Regions from separate parts of the Homo sapiens genome. Here regions 1 and 2 are each linked to region 3. Evidence: fine-mapped expression QTL. A gene starts in region 3. Each other region holds a variant in brackets. All regions are shown on one strand. Distances are from middle to middle.

Region 1 (4,227 bases), 99 kb after region 3:
CAATCTATGTGTGTATATATGTATGTGTGTGTGTATATATTACTATGTATGCATGTGAGTATATACAGACACACACATCCTTTAGTATCCAAATTAGAATTTTATCTGATGGATAAAATTTATTTTATTCTCTTATTCACAGCACTCTTATTTATTCTTATTCACAACATTGCTGAAGGGAAAACTCAACAGCTATTGTTTGTTGCCTGACTTAGCTATAGATCAAAAATACCTGTTTTGCAATAAGAAAAGAAAAAGTTGTCAAAACAACTGGATGGGAAAACAATAGAAAAAATTCACATTACTGTTTCCTTTTGAAGATATGGTTGTGGACGTATTCCTCTTTAAGGATAAGAAATTTGAAACTACAGTAATGCTAACTGATAGACGCGTTAAATTCAGATGTACTGGCTTCTGTTTCATGGAACCTACGTTTATTTCTTCTGCTGTCCCACATTTAATTGATAACGACATCACTACAAGTATAAGAAAAGGAAGCAGAGTGAGGTTTACGGATGAGCACTTGGGAGGGATTTCAGAGGTCGTGATGGCCACAGTGTGAGCCAGCGATGCCTGGTGCTACCCTTGAGCATGAAGCAGGCCGACTTGAACGCACCTTGTTAATTGCCAGGCCGTGCAATGTCGTTCCTAAGGTCTCTTAAACTGGACATCCTTGGTTTGAGTTCCCAGTCTTGTTATTTACTTGCTGGGTCCTACGGAGCAAATTAACATCATTCCTTGAACCCTAGTTTCTATGTCTGTAAAATACTGAGTAAGTTTGCCAAGATGAAAACAGGAGACAAACTGAGAAACTACTGGCTGTCCAATTTTATGTCGAGAGATGGAATCGTATTTACCTTTTTCGTCTTTGGTCCGGAATGCAAATGCATTGCACAGGAGCAGAATGACTGGATTTGTTTCTGCGGCAAAAAAGGGCAAACAAAACACTAACAGCTTTGCTTGCAGGTTTTCCTGGCAGCTCACCCTCCAGGCACAGTTCTCCAAAATGCAGCAAACTTGGTCTGTTTGTTTCAATACTAAAATAATGTAGAGATTCTTTGGGGTATTTTTCTTTCCTGCCCTGTCAAAATTCTGTACACTGACGACATGTGTTGTTTCTTTTGAAGAACGGGGCGAATGATGTGAAGCATCATCGGTGGTTCCGCTCCGTGGACTGGGAAGCTGTTCCGCAGAGAAAACTGAAGGTACAACACATATCAGTGGGTGACTCAGTATGCCCGAGCTCTTCCATTAGCAGGGACTGCCTCTGAATCCTGGGACTTCTTTATTGATGGCTGACATGTGATTAATTTATATAATACAACTATTTGTCTAAAACTGTTCATAAGCCAAGTTCCCCACTCTTTGAGTGTCTTAGTGCTAACCATCTACCTAGCTCCCACAAAGGCAGGAGCCACCACACCCAGTCATATACCACATGTTCTTTGTCCATTCATCCCTGGATGGACACTTATCCCAGATTTTGAAGCAGATTTTAGGAGACCTGGCCTGATTCCTGACTAGCTCTGTGACTGCTAAACCCTACTCCCTCCTCTTTAGTGGAAAGCGGTCAACAGGATTACAGAGATAAGCAAGCGTCTAGCACCATGGTCATCGTTCAGTGATGGTGGTGTATTACATGGAGAATATTCTTTGGAACGTTTCTGGCCAAACTGCCTATTTTTAAACATCTGGCTTTTTGGCTGGGTGCTGTGGCTCACGCCTATAATTCCAGTACTTTGAGAGGCCAACTCAGGCAGATCACTGGAACCCACGAGTTTGAGACTAGCCTGGGCAATATGGTGAAATCCCGCCTCTACAGAAAATACCAAAATTAGCCAGGCGTGGTGGCATATGCTTGTGGTACCAGCTACTTGGGAGGCTGAGGCACAAGAATTGCTTGATACCAGGAGGCGGAGGTTGCAGTGAGCCAAGATTATGCCACTGCACTCCAGCCTGGGCGACAGAGCCAGACCCTGTCTCAAAAAAAAAAAAAAAAAAAAAAAAATCTGGCATTTTTTTCAATGTATAATACTTGTCCATTTTATAAATGAGGAGACTGTGCTCAGAGAAGTTAAGCAATGTGTGGAAGGTTACACAGCTGCTAAGCAGTGTAACTATCACAGGTACATATTTATGGGGGTACATGTTATATTTTGACACACGCATAGAATGTGTAATGATC[A/C]ACTGAGGGTAACCAGGGTATCCATCAGCTCAAACATTTATCATTTTTATGGGTTGGGAATATTGCAAATCTAGCTATTCTGAAATATACAATATATTGTTAACTCTGCCCACCCAACTATGCTGTCAAACACTGGAACTTATTCCTTTTATCTAACATTATGTTTATGCAATATTTCTTCATCTCCCCTTCATCCCCTAGCTATACACACTTCCCACCCTCTGGTAACTATCATTCTACTCTCAACCTTCATGACATCCATTTTTTTAGCTCCCACATATGAGTGGGAACACGCTGTGTTTCTCATTCTGCGTCTGGCTTAGTTTATTATTTATTATTTATTTTTTGAGACAGCGTCTTGCTCTGTTGCCCAGGCTGGAGTGCAGTGGCACGATCTTGCTCACTGCAGCCTCCACCTCCTGGCTTCAAGCAGTTCTCATGCCTCAGCCCCCTGAGTAGCTGGGATTACAGACGCCCAGCTAATTTTTGTATTTTTACTAGAGACGGGGTTTCACCATGTTGGCCAGGCTGGTCTCAATCTCCTAACCTCAAGTGATCCACCAGCCTCAGTCTCCCAAAGAAGTGCTGGGATTACAGGCATGAGCCGCTGCACCCGGCCTGGCTTAGTTTACTTAACATGATGGTCTCCCATTCCATTCGTGGTGCTATAAATGACAGGATTTCATTCCATTTTATGGCCGGATAGTTTTTCATTGTGTGTATGGACCACACTTTCTTTATCCTTTCATCCATTGGTGGACACTTAGGTTGATTCCATATCTTGGCTTTTGTGAACACTCTGAACTGCATATGTTACTGATGGGAGTGGTCAATGGTAGTGTTTTCACCTTTGCACTTCAGAGTTAAAAGAATGGAGAATGCTTAGAAATGCTTATTCCTAGTCCTCAGCTCAGACCAGAGTTTCTGGGGCTGGAGCCTGGGATGATACGCTTCTTTTTTTTTTTTTTTTTTTTTTTTTTGAGATGGAGTCTCACTTTGTCGCTCAGGCTCGGGGTGTAGTGCAGTGGAGTGATCTCAACTCACTGCAACCTCCACCTCTTGGATTCAAGTGATTCTTCTGCCTCAGCCTCCCAAGTAGCTGGGATTACAGGTGTGCGCCACCACATCCAGCTAATTTTTTTGTGTGTTTTTAGAAGAGATGGGGTTTCACTATGTTGGCCAGGCTGGTTTCGAACTCATGACCTCAAATGATCCACTCTCCTCGGCCTCCCAAAGTGCTGGGATTACAGGTGTCAGCCACTGGGCCTGGGCTGATGCATCATTTTGTTCAAAGTTTTACCTTTTCAAATACTTTATTGTATTAAATTGCATTAAAAAAACAATTTGAATACGTTTTATCTATCCACATTGGTCAAAAACCAAGTCAATATTAAAACAGATATATTGCCAAGTCTCCCTCTTACCCCCTCCAAGCCACCTGTAGGTAATCACCTTTTATTGTTTTTCTGTGTATCCTTCTAGAGTTTCTTTGTGCTAATAAAAACCCACATGGATACATGCATTCTTATTTTTGCCACTCATTTATACAAATCTAGAGTAGCGTAGTATGTACATTATTATAGTCTTGCTTTTTGCACTTGACTATATAATCTGGAGACCTGTCTACATACCTGGCTAGCTTCCTCATTTTTTTTTTTTTTTTTTTTTTTTTTTTTTTTTTTTTGAGACGAAGTCTTGCTCCGTTGCCCAGGCTGGAGTTCAGTGGTGCGATCTCGGCTCACTGCAACCTCCGCCTCCCAGGTTCAAGCGATTCTCCTGCCTCAGCCTCCCAAGTAGCTGGGATTACAGGCACCCACCACTATGCCCGGCTAATTTTTGTCTTTTCGGTAGAGACAGGGTTTCTCCATGGGCCAGGCTGTTCTCGAACTCCTGACCTCAGATGATCCTCCCACCTTGGCCTCCCAAAGTGCTGGGATTACAGGCATGAGCCACTGCGCCTAGCCAGCTTCCTCATTTTAAAAAATACTGCATTGTATTCCATCACATGACTGTACCATAGCTTACTTAATACTATATATATA
Region 2 (4,227 bases), 270 kb after region 3:
TCTTGTCTTTCCGACACCTCTGCTTCAACCTAACTATGAGTGAGGTAAGAACTTTCCTGAATCGCAAGCATACCTAGCAATTTCCCAGAGAGCAAAAAGCATAATTTCTACTCTCCCCAATCAGAGGAGTATAAAGCAATTTTATTTAGATGTCGTTCCTGTGGCCTGGGTCCCAGAGAGTTCTAAAGGTGTGGTTCCTTCCCACCATTGTTAGGGAGAGGATATTTGGTGGACGTATACCAAAACTCACAACAATTCAGGCATTGCTTCTTTGCAATGCTGAACTATATATTCCAGTATATATTTTTCCCCAAATGCATTGGTTTAAATATAGTTGTTTGTCTGATACATGGAAATCTGCTTAAGCTAAATAACAGACTCGTCTCTTCCTTGACAGGAAGCTCTTATTTCCTGCACGCACTGGGAAGGCCATTGTTTGCCTCACTCTTGCTCCTGAATGACATATTTCAGCCCATGCAGTAGCATCAATGGTAGGAAATTTATGGAGGTACCTGCTTATTAGATGTGCTGCGTTATCATCAACTGGATTCATACAAATGGCCAGATGGCAAAGAGAATGTGAGCCTACACGACTGTTCCTGGAGTTTCAAAGAGAGCCCAAGACACACCTCTGTGTAATTGGCTATTTAGCGTCTGGCCTAAACAAAGCAGGGATAAGAGCTTGAGTTTCCACATTCCTTTCCTTATACCTGGGAATATCCAGGATTGACCTCGAATCCTTTGAAATCACTCACAATGTACCCCTCAGAGTGCTGAACCCAAATGAAATCTGTGCATGGGGAAGCTCTGATTGAGTACACACTGAAGCACATTTCCATAGTAGGAATAGTTAGAGAGAGAGAGATGATGGATAGATAAATAGATAGATGATAGATGAATAGATAGATAGGTAATAGATTTTATATAGATAGATAGATGATAGATAGATAATGGATAGATAAATAGATGGGTGATAGATGATAGAGACGTGGATAGATAGGTGACAGATGATAAATACATAGAGAAATAGATGATGGATAGACAGATGATGGATAGATAGATGAATAGATAGATATAGATGGATAGATGGGTGGGTGATAGATGATAGATAGATAGATAGATAGATAGATAGATAGATAGATAGATAGATAAATAGATGATACATAGATAAATGACAGATGTCCACCATGAGGTTCTGGCTCTCAGTGGTTCCCCAGAACCCTCTGTTTATGACTCTGTCTTCCAGCACAGTTAATCTGTCAAATGTCAATTCCAGGAGCATTTTACCAGAAAGTTCCCCACCCTGTCAGCAAAGCACGAGCCCTTCCCCTACGAGGCCACACTGCCACCAGTAGCAGGGCTGGCTGGGCCCACACAGGTGTACACACTCAGGGAGCATTACTCAACCCAGAGCCTATGCAGAAGAAATCAGTGAGGAACAAATTGTTTCCCGTGTCCCTTCTGCCATCTTGGCAAAAATAAATGCTGAAGAATTAAAACGCTGCCTACACATGTACCCATGTGCTTCCTCTGGGTCCTGGTGATGGGAAGTGGGAGCTGTACCTTAACGACCATAGTAGGATCCTCTGGCTGACCTCTTCAGCTGGCCGATGTCCAGTTGCTTCCTTTGGAGGCCTATCACTCAACCATATTGCAGATTGTATGATCCATTTGACCTAGCAATAGATAAGTGAGGGGTTAGACACCCAGAGATGGTCTCTTAGCTCAGGATGCTCAACAAAGTGTGATAGCCTTGGGGGCTTAGACCACAGATGTTTATTGCTCACAATTCTGAATGCTGGATGTCCAAGACCAAGGCATGGCAGATTCAATGTCTGGTGAGGACTTGGTTCTTTGTTCATAGACAGTGCCTCCTTGCTGGTTCCTCACATGGTGGAGAGGGTGAGATGGACAGAGTGAGGGAGGGAGGGAGGGAAGGAAGGAGAGAAACATATATATAGAGAGAGATTGAGACAGAGAGAGAGAGAGTGAACTCCCCAGAGTGTCTTCTTATAAGGACACTAATCCTACCGGATCAGGTCTCCATCCTTATGACATTGGTATTAGTTTGTTCTCAGGCTGCTAATAAAGACATACCCAAGACTGGGTAATTTATAAAGAAAAAGAAGTTTAATGGACTCACAGTTCCACATGGCTGGGGAGGCCTCACAATCATGGCAGAAGCCAAGGAGGAGCAAAGTCCTGTCTTACATGGCAGCAGCCAAGAGA[G/A]CATGCGCAGGGGAACGCCTCTTTACAAAACCATCAGATCTGGTGAGACTTATTCACTACCACAAGAACAGCATGGGAAAGACCCACCTTTATGATTCAATTACCTCCTACTCGGTCCCTCCCATGACGTGGGGATTATGGGAGCTACAGTTCAAGATGAGATTCAGGTGGGGACACATCCAAACCATAATATCATTGAATCTTAATTACATCTTGTTAAATTAAGTTTAGCCTAAAGCTGCCTCCTCACATATTTTAAGTTCAACCTCAAAGCTTCTCTGCACACAGTGCACTGTAACCTAACTGGATGTGCAAACATGCAAATGGACTGGAATCCACTCCTGTGCCAACCACCAAGTTTTGACCAGTCAAAGGTGGCCAATGGTACAAATTGTGTTCAAATAAGGTAAATGCCAAGCTGTAACCAATCCAGCTGTTTCTGTACCTCACTTTCATTTTTCTGTCCATAAATCTTTGACCATGCAGCAAAGCCAGAGATTGAACCTATTCTGGTTTTGGGGGGCTGCCTGATTTGGGAATCATTCTTTGCTCAATTAACCTCTGTTAAATTTAATTTGTCTAAGGTTTTTCTTTTAACAGACATTATTCCAAATACACCCACACTGGCAGTTAGAACTTTGTCATATGGATTTGGGGGGAAGGGAAAGAAACATTGAGACTTGAACAGATGGACATATCCAACAGCCAGTATTCTGTGTGTTGAAGGTAGGGCTCCCCACTTCCATTAATTAGCCTAATAAATGGTTTGGTGAAATATTTCCCAAAAGTAAAAAGAAAAAAAAAAGAAAATAATCACCTGTATCAGGTGGTCCTTCTCGAGTTTTATGTTTTCAGTTTTTTTTTTTTTTTTTTTTTTTTTGCACATGGATGAAATGTAGAATGCAGTCCTACAAATAAGCTTACTCTTTTGCCAGCACTGGGCTCTTTTCCAGGTGGGCATATGGGCTAGTTTAGTATTCCCACCTAGTCAGAGCTCAATAAAAATTAAAATAGAAAAAGTGCTGAATCGACACAGATGGTTACAGTGGTGCATGGTTATGGTAGTGAGATAAAAGCCAAATTTGCAAATGCAATTTGATAGAGCCCTTGGCGGTCATCGTTTGTCACTGTTAACATTAGCTGTCCTTCCTGGACCACAACTGTCCTTCCTGGACCACCCTGATGGATTGGGTGTCAAAGGTTACTGAACTCACTTTTAGGCATGCAAACTGCAAAATGTGCACACTTAGTATCTGTTCGCTAATCTGAAGGGCTGCAAATCTCCCACTAAGCTGGAAGAATGGGGTGGAGTAAATTCAGTGCAAAGCAGAGACCCTCTTGGTGTGTCCATAGGTTCATGGTTCCTTCTGGGGAAATGCATGGCCTGTTCTTCATGTCTTGCCGTCAGCCATCATCACCAAGAGCTTCTTCAAGCTGAGGTCTGGAAGTGAAATGTGGGGAGCAAACTACATCCTAGCCATGGAGAGAAGGCCTTGAGTTAAGGGAGGCTCAGCAGAAGAATAGCTGTGCTGCTGCTTGAGCCTTGTCTGGCTTCATCCACCTGCATGCTGCTGGCACTGGGGCTGGAGCCTGCAGCCTGTGTACCTGGGGTTTTGGCCTGATCAGGGCTCCATTGCCACCCATATGGACCCTTTGAGTCTCAGCTATGTCCCCCATCTGGCCCTGACCTGGGTGACTCCCCTTGAGACTCTGTATGTTTATGTGTCTGTATGCGTATGTTCTGTATGAACTTGTGTACGCACATGTATTTCTGTGTGTTCATGTTTGTATGTGTAGATGCACAAATGCATGCATTTCTGCATGAGTGTATTATGTATGTGTGTTTGTATATGCACATGTGTTCCCATGTATGAGTGCATGGGTGTACATTCATGCAGGCATATGTATGCACGAGTTTCTGTATGATTTTATGTATGCATGCATTTGTGTGTATATATGTGCATTCATGCAGGTGTATGTATTCATGGGTTTCTGCAT
Region 3 (4,227 bases):
GCAAATTAATGCCACTTCATTAAGGCGGTAATGACCCTTCCATGCCTAACTCACAGGGATTTTCCTTTTTTGTCTCTCAAGTAATAGGCTGTGGTTTCTCAAGGATTTTTATGATCCTTCCAGATGAAAGCTGTTTTGTCAAGCAAGGTGTTGTGAAACGTGCAGGGTCTATTTATAAGAAGAGGTAGCTATGCGGTCAAGTTCAGGGTGGGTTCGGTGGAATCAGACCAACCAGCAGCTCAAGCAGAGTTTAACGCTGCAAATCTGTGCCACGTTCTTCTTCCTGCGTGCAATTTGCAGGCAAGGACATCTGCTTAATTGGGTGTGAAACCCGGGCCTTGATTAAAAGGACTTTATGAGGCCGCAGCCTTGCATTTCCAAGGTCAGGCCCTAGTGGAGAGGGCGCGCGTTCCGCGGGGAGACACGAACTTTTCCTGAGTGCGCGTTCCTTGCTGGCCCTGAACCCCTCGGCCAGGCAGGGCTTGGCAGGGCCGTTTCCTGTCCTAACCAGGATCAAGGGATTGCGCGGCTTGCTGGTGAAGCTTGGCAGGGCCGTGACCTGTCCTAACCAGGCTCAGGGGATGGCAGGGGCCTGCTGGTGTCGCATATGTTTTGCATTCCAGCTCAGGATTTTGCAGAGCATAGGGAGCGGGTGTCACCCCCGGGGGGAAATGCCACCCACAAAATGCAGGTGGAGGCTGGGCGAGGCTGGCAGCCAGGGGCCAGAAATCCAAAGCCTGAGCCAGGTTCAGACTTCCTGACTCCCCCTCCCCGTTAGCTGTGGAAGGATGGCTCGGCCTGGTCCCCCTAAAAATGTGTCCGTTCTGACTTAGAGGCCGCTTTGGCTCTCGGAAAGCCCCCCTGACCTGCGGACTGAGGGACTGGAGACCCCCTCCAATCGCAGAATCGCTGAGATCCCTCAAAACAAAGGCGTTTGCAGTTTGACCCCTTGCTGCTCAAACTGTGGTCGGCGAACCGGCAGCCTGGGCCGCCCTGGTCGCGGGTCAGGGGCGCAGCGTCCAGGCCGTGCCAGGCCCGCAAGTTAAGCACTGTCTGCATTTCCCTGGGGAAAGGGGTGACCAAATATCTAGCTATATTTGCATTTCAAATCCACACGGATATGGGTTTTAAATATAAGTATGTCCAACTATTGCCTGAGCCACACTTAAGCCAGGAAAAAAAAATCTTTGGGGTTTCTGAAATTGAAATGCCTCTGCACAATTCTTTATAGGGTTGTCGCCGGGGTGTTTGAAACAGTGACCAATCAAGTTTCACGCACTACATTTGGTCGGGCGATCTCTCAAATCTGTCTTTCCCTAGTTTTTTAAAGGAATGTTTATTTGTAAAGAATTCTAGATCCACAGGAAGCTGCAAAGAAACGCACAGGGTCGAGCCCGCCCTTCCCCGCCCCTTCCAAGTAGAAATCTAGAATCACCAGAGTCCTACAGCAAAACCAGGACGCTGAACTCATCCCGAAGACCCGGCAGCCCCTCTTGGGGATCCGCCCTCATTCCAAATTCTCTCAGGTCCCAAACAAGCACCCGCAGGAGTACTGAACTTTTTGGGGGGAGGGCAGAGGGGATCTGTATGCAGATTGCCAGCTGAGCAATCCTATTTTCTATGACTTAAAGCCAATCAGAGGCTGGGCGTGGTGGCTTATACCTGTAGTCCCAGCACTTTGGGAGAACGAGGCAGGCGGTTCACTTGTGCTCAGGAGTTCCAGACCAGCCTGGCCAACATGGTGAAACCCTGTCTCTACTGAGAAAATACAAAAATTAGCCGGGCTAATCCGAGCCCCTCTCTTCACCAAACGCCAGTTTCACTTTTTAGTTTTGAACTTCACTTCTGCTGAGCTACGCCCTCCCTGTCCCCGGGCCCCCTCGCCTCCCCATCTTCCGGGCTTGGGTGCAGCGACGCGGGTGGCCCGCCAGTGCGTCCCCGAGGAGAAGTCAGCCTGGGTCCCACCCCAGGGGTGCCCCGGGCGCGGAGGGGGCGTGGGCACCTCCCCAGCGCCGCACGCCCGGGTCTCCGGCTCCTGGGCTGGGTCGGGGCGGGGGCGGAGCGCGCGCGAAGGCGACGCCCCCAGCCCCGCGGCCGGGTTAGGGCGGGGAGAGGCGCGGTCACGCCCAGGCGGCTTCCGCCCGCCCCAACAGCGCGCACGCGGCTACCGAGCTGGAGGAGGCGGCGGGCGCGAGACCCGGAATGCGCAGGGCCCCCGCCTCGCCCCCCCCAGCCCGGGCCGCGGCCCCCGCCTTCCCCGCAGTCGTCCCGCACTCGGTGCCCGCCCCCCGAGGCCGGCGGCTGCTCCCACTCGGGGCCGTTGCTGCTTGTGCCGTGAGCGCCGCCCAGCCATTGTCCCCGTCGCTCCGTCAGCCGCGCCGGACCGCGCACCAGGAGGCGAGAGCGCGCATGGGGAGCCTCTGTTGATGCCGCCGCCGCGCCGCCCTCCGAGGCTGCGTCCCGGGAAGCCCGGCTCCCCGAGCGCTCCGGCCTGGCCCGGTGCCCCGGACCTGAGTGCGTCCCCATGGAGGCGCCCGGGCTGGCCCAGGCGGCCGCGGCGGAGAGCGACTCCCGCAAGGTGGCGGAGGAGACCCCCGACGGGGCGCCCGCGCTCTGCCCCAGCCCTGAGGCGCTGTCGCCGGAGCCGCCTGTGTACAGCCTGCAGGACTTTGACACGCTGGCCACCGTGGGTGAGTGAGTGCGGGCGGGGACTCGGCCCACAGGGGCGCGCGGCGTGGCCGGGACGTTGTAGTAGGACAAAGGGCCCTGGGTGCCGACCTCCTGGGGAGGGCCCTGACCCGCTACTTCGGCTCGGAGTCCCCGTGCGGGGCTGCACCTGCGCCCCGGGTCTTCCCGGGTGGAGCGCACTCCCCAGCCCCCCAGCCCAGGCAAGTACCCCCGACCGGCCGGGTGCCTAACCTGAAATGCCGACGGCTCCTCTCGGAGACCACCCTCCACCCCCAGCACACACAGCACTCTGGGGCCTGGGCCGTCCGACGTCACAAAACCTCCTGCGGGTCACCTCGCCTGGGGGACCTCGTGCTCCCTCCCTGGCAGCGGCCCCAGGGACACTGGCGCGGGGTGCGAAGACCCCTGCAGGCCTCCCCTAGGCCAGCCTCCCTGTGTGCCCAGAGGCAGGGAATGTACAGATTTCTCCAGGGGCTGCAGGAGCAGCTGGGCTGTGGGGGACAGGTGTCCCGGGGCGCTGTGGGGACGAGGACGGCAGCGCTGGGGACGGATCCTAACATGTCCTGACACCGCCTGTGCTCTTCGTCTTGTGCCTCTGAAATGGGTAATTCTTGTATCGGACGCTTTATCCGTTTCCTTTGTCCTCTGTCTTTGAACTTAACCCCGAATGGGCAGCTTGACAGAGAGGTTTCGAGTTCTCGGTGCTCTTGCATCCGGACACGCGCTGCTTTATGGAGCAGCCCTGAGTGGGTCAGAATATCCCAACTGAACGTGGGCGCTGGATTTAAACAGTTGTCATCGGCCCGCCTGTGCCACTTAGGGACTCCGTATGGCTAAGTGGGGTGTTGGCTGTCAAGAAAATAAATGGGAGAGTAGAGGGGGCTGTCCTGGGTGTGTTGGTGAGGCGTCGGCTCTCAGGCCCTCTAACTCCTGTTTGTCCTCATTTTGGAAAGGAGGAAGCTGGGCTGGGAAGCCCAAGGGCTCGAGGCCATAGCTTATGACTTAGGAAGACCAGCGGGCATAGCCAGTGGGGCCTTTAGAACCGCTGAGGAAGAGGGGACTTAGCTTCCTTCAGTGACCTCTTTGCCACTTAGACCTTGAGGAAGGGCCCACGAGGAAAGCCTGAATTTGGAAGGACAGAGTGGGAGGAGGCCCTCTCTCTTTCTCCTCTCCCTCCCTCCTCCTCTTTATCTCATTCTCTCTCTCTTTTCTCTGTTTCTCTTCTCTCTCCCTCTTTCTGTCTCTGTTCAAGTCTCTCTGCATTTCTCCTCCTCTGTCTCTTGGTGTCTCTCTCCCTGTCCCCTTCCGGTCTTGGTTTTTCTGTCTCCCTCCCTCCTCTCTCTCTGCCTTCCCCCTTGTCTTGGTCCCCCCGGAAAGCTGTCCTGGTCTAATCTTAGAGCTGGGTGTGTTTTGCGCGGAAGAAGGGTGGGGCAGGAACCCTGACTGGCGCAGCCGCCACAGTAGGTGGAAATACAACTCGACAATGGAAAATTGATGAGGTCCAGCCGTTCCTTGGCACTCAGCACCAGCGTTTGTCAT

Direction of the effects. Positions count from the first base shown, and alleles are read on the strand shown. Sizes are in standard deviations (SD) of each study's normalised expression. Not every link is listed here.
With allele A in place of C in region 1, the expression in tibial nerve of the gene that starts at base 2,129 in region 3 is higher (small effect, 0.07 SD a copy in GTEx).

The links. PIP is the estimated chance that this variant, and not a neighbour inherited with it, causes the effect.
Region 1: its variant is the best candidate, but not a certain one, in a credible set for the expression of PRKX in tibial nerve (GTEx, PIP 0.72).
Region 2: its variant is the best candidate, but not a certain one, in a credible set for the expression of PRKX in esophagus muscle (GTEx, PIP 0.87).

Annotation. Positions count from the first base shown.
Region 1 is chrX:3,612,793-3,617,019 of GRCh38, reverse strand. It overlaps PRKX (protein kinase cAMP-dependent X-linked catalytic subunit), which reads left to right. Exons shown (of 9, transcript NM_005044.5): 7 at 1,128-1,205. Among named protein-coding and RNA genes, the nearest start is that of PRKX-AS1, 45 kb to the left of the region's middle. The variant A/C (reference allele first, on the strand shown) is at 2,186.
Region 2 is chrX:3,444,982-3,449,208 of GRCh38, reverse strand. No RefSeq gene overlaps it. Among named protein-coding and RNA genes, the nearest start is that of SNORA48B, 85 kb to the left of the region's middle. The variant G/A (reference allele first, on the strand shown) is at 2,230.
Region 3 is chrX:3,711,551-3,715,777 of GRCh38, reverse strand. PRKX (protein kinase cAMP-dependent X-linked catalytic subunit) reads left to right here and starts at 2,129. Exons shown (of 9, transcript NM_005044.5): 1 at 2,129-2,690. The coding sequence starts at 2,525. RefSeq lists enhancers at 217-864, 3,196-3,505, 3,906-4,035 and silencers at 1,826-2,555, 2,576-2,705, 2,746-3,025.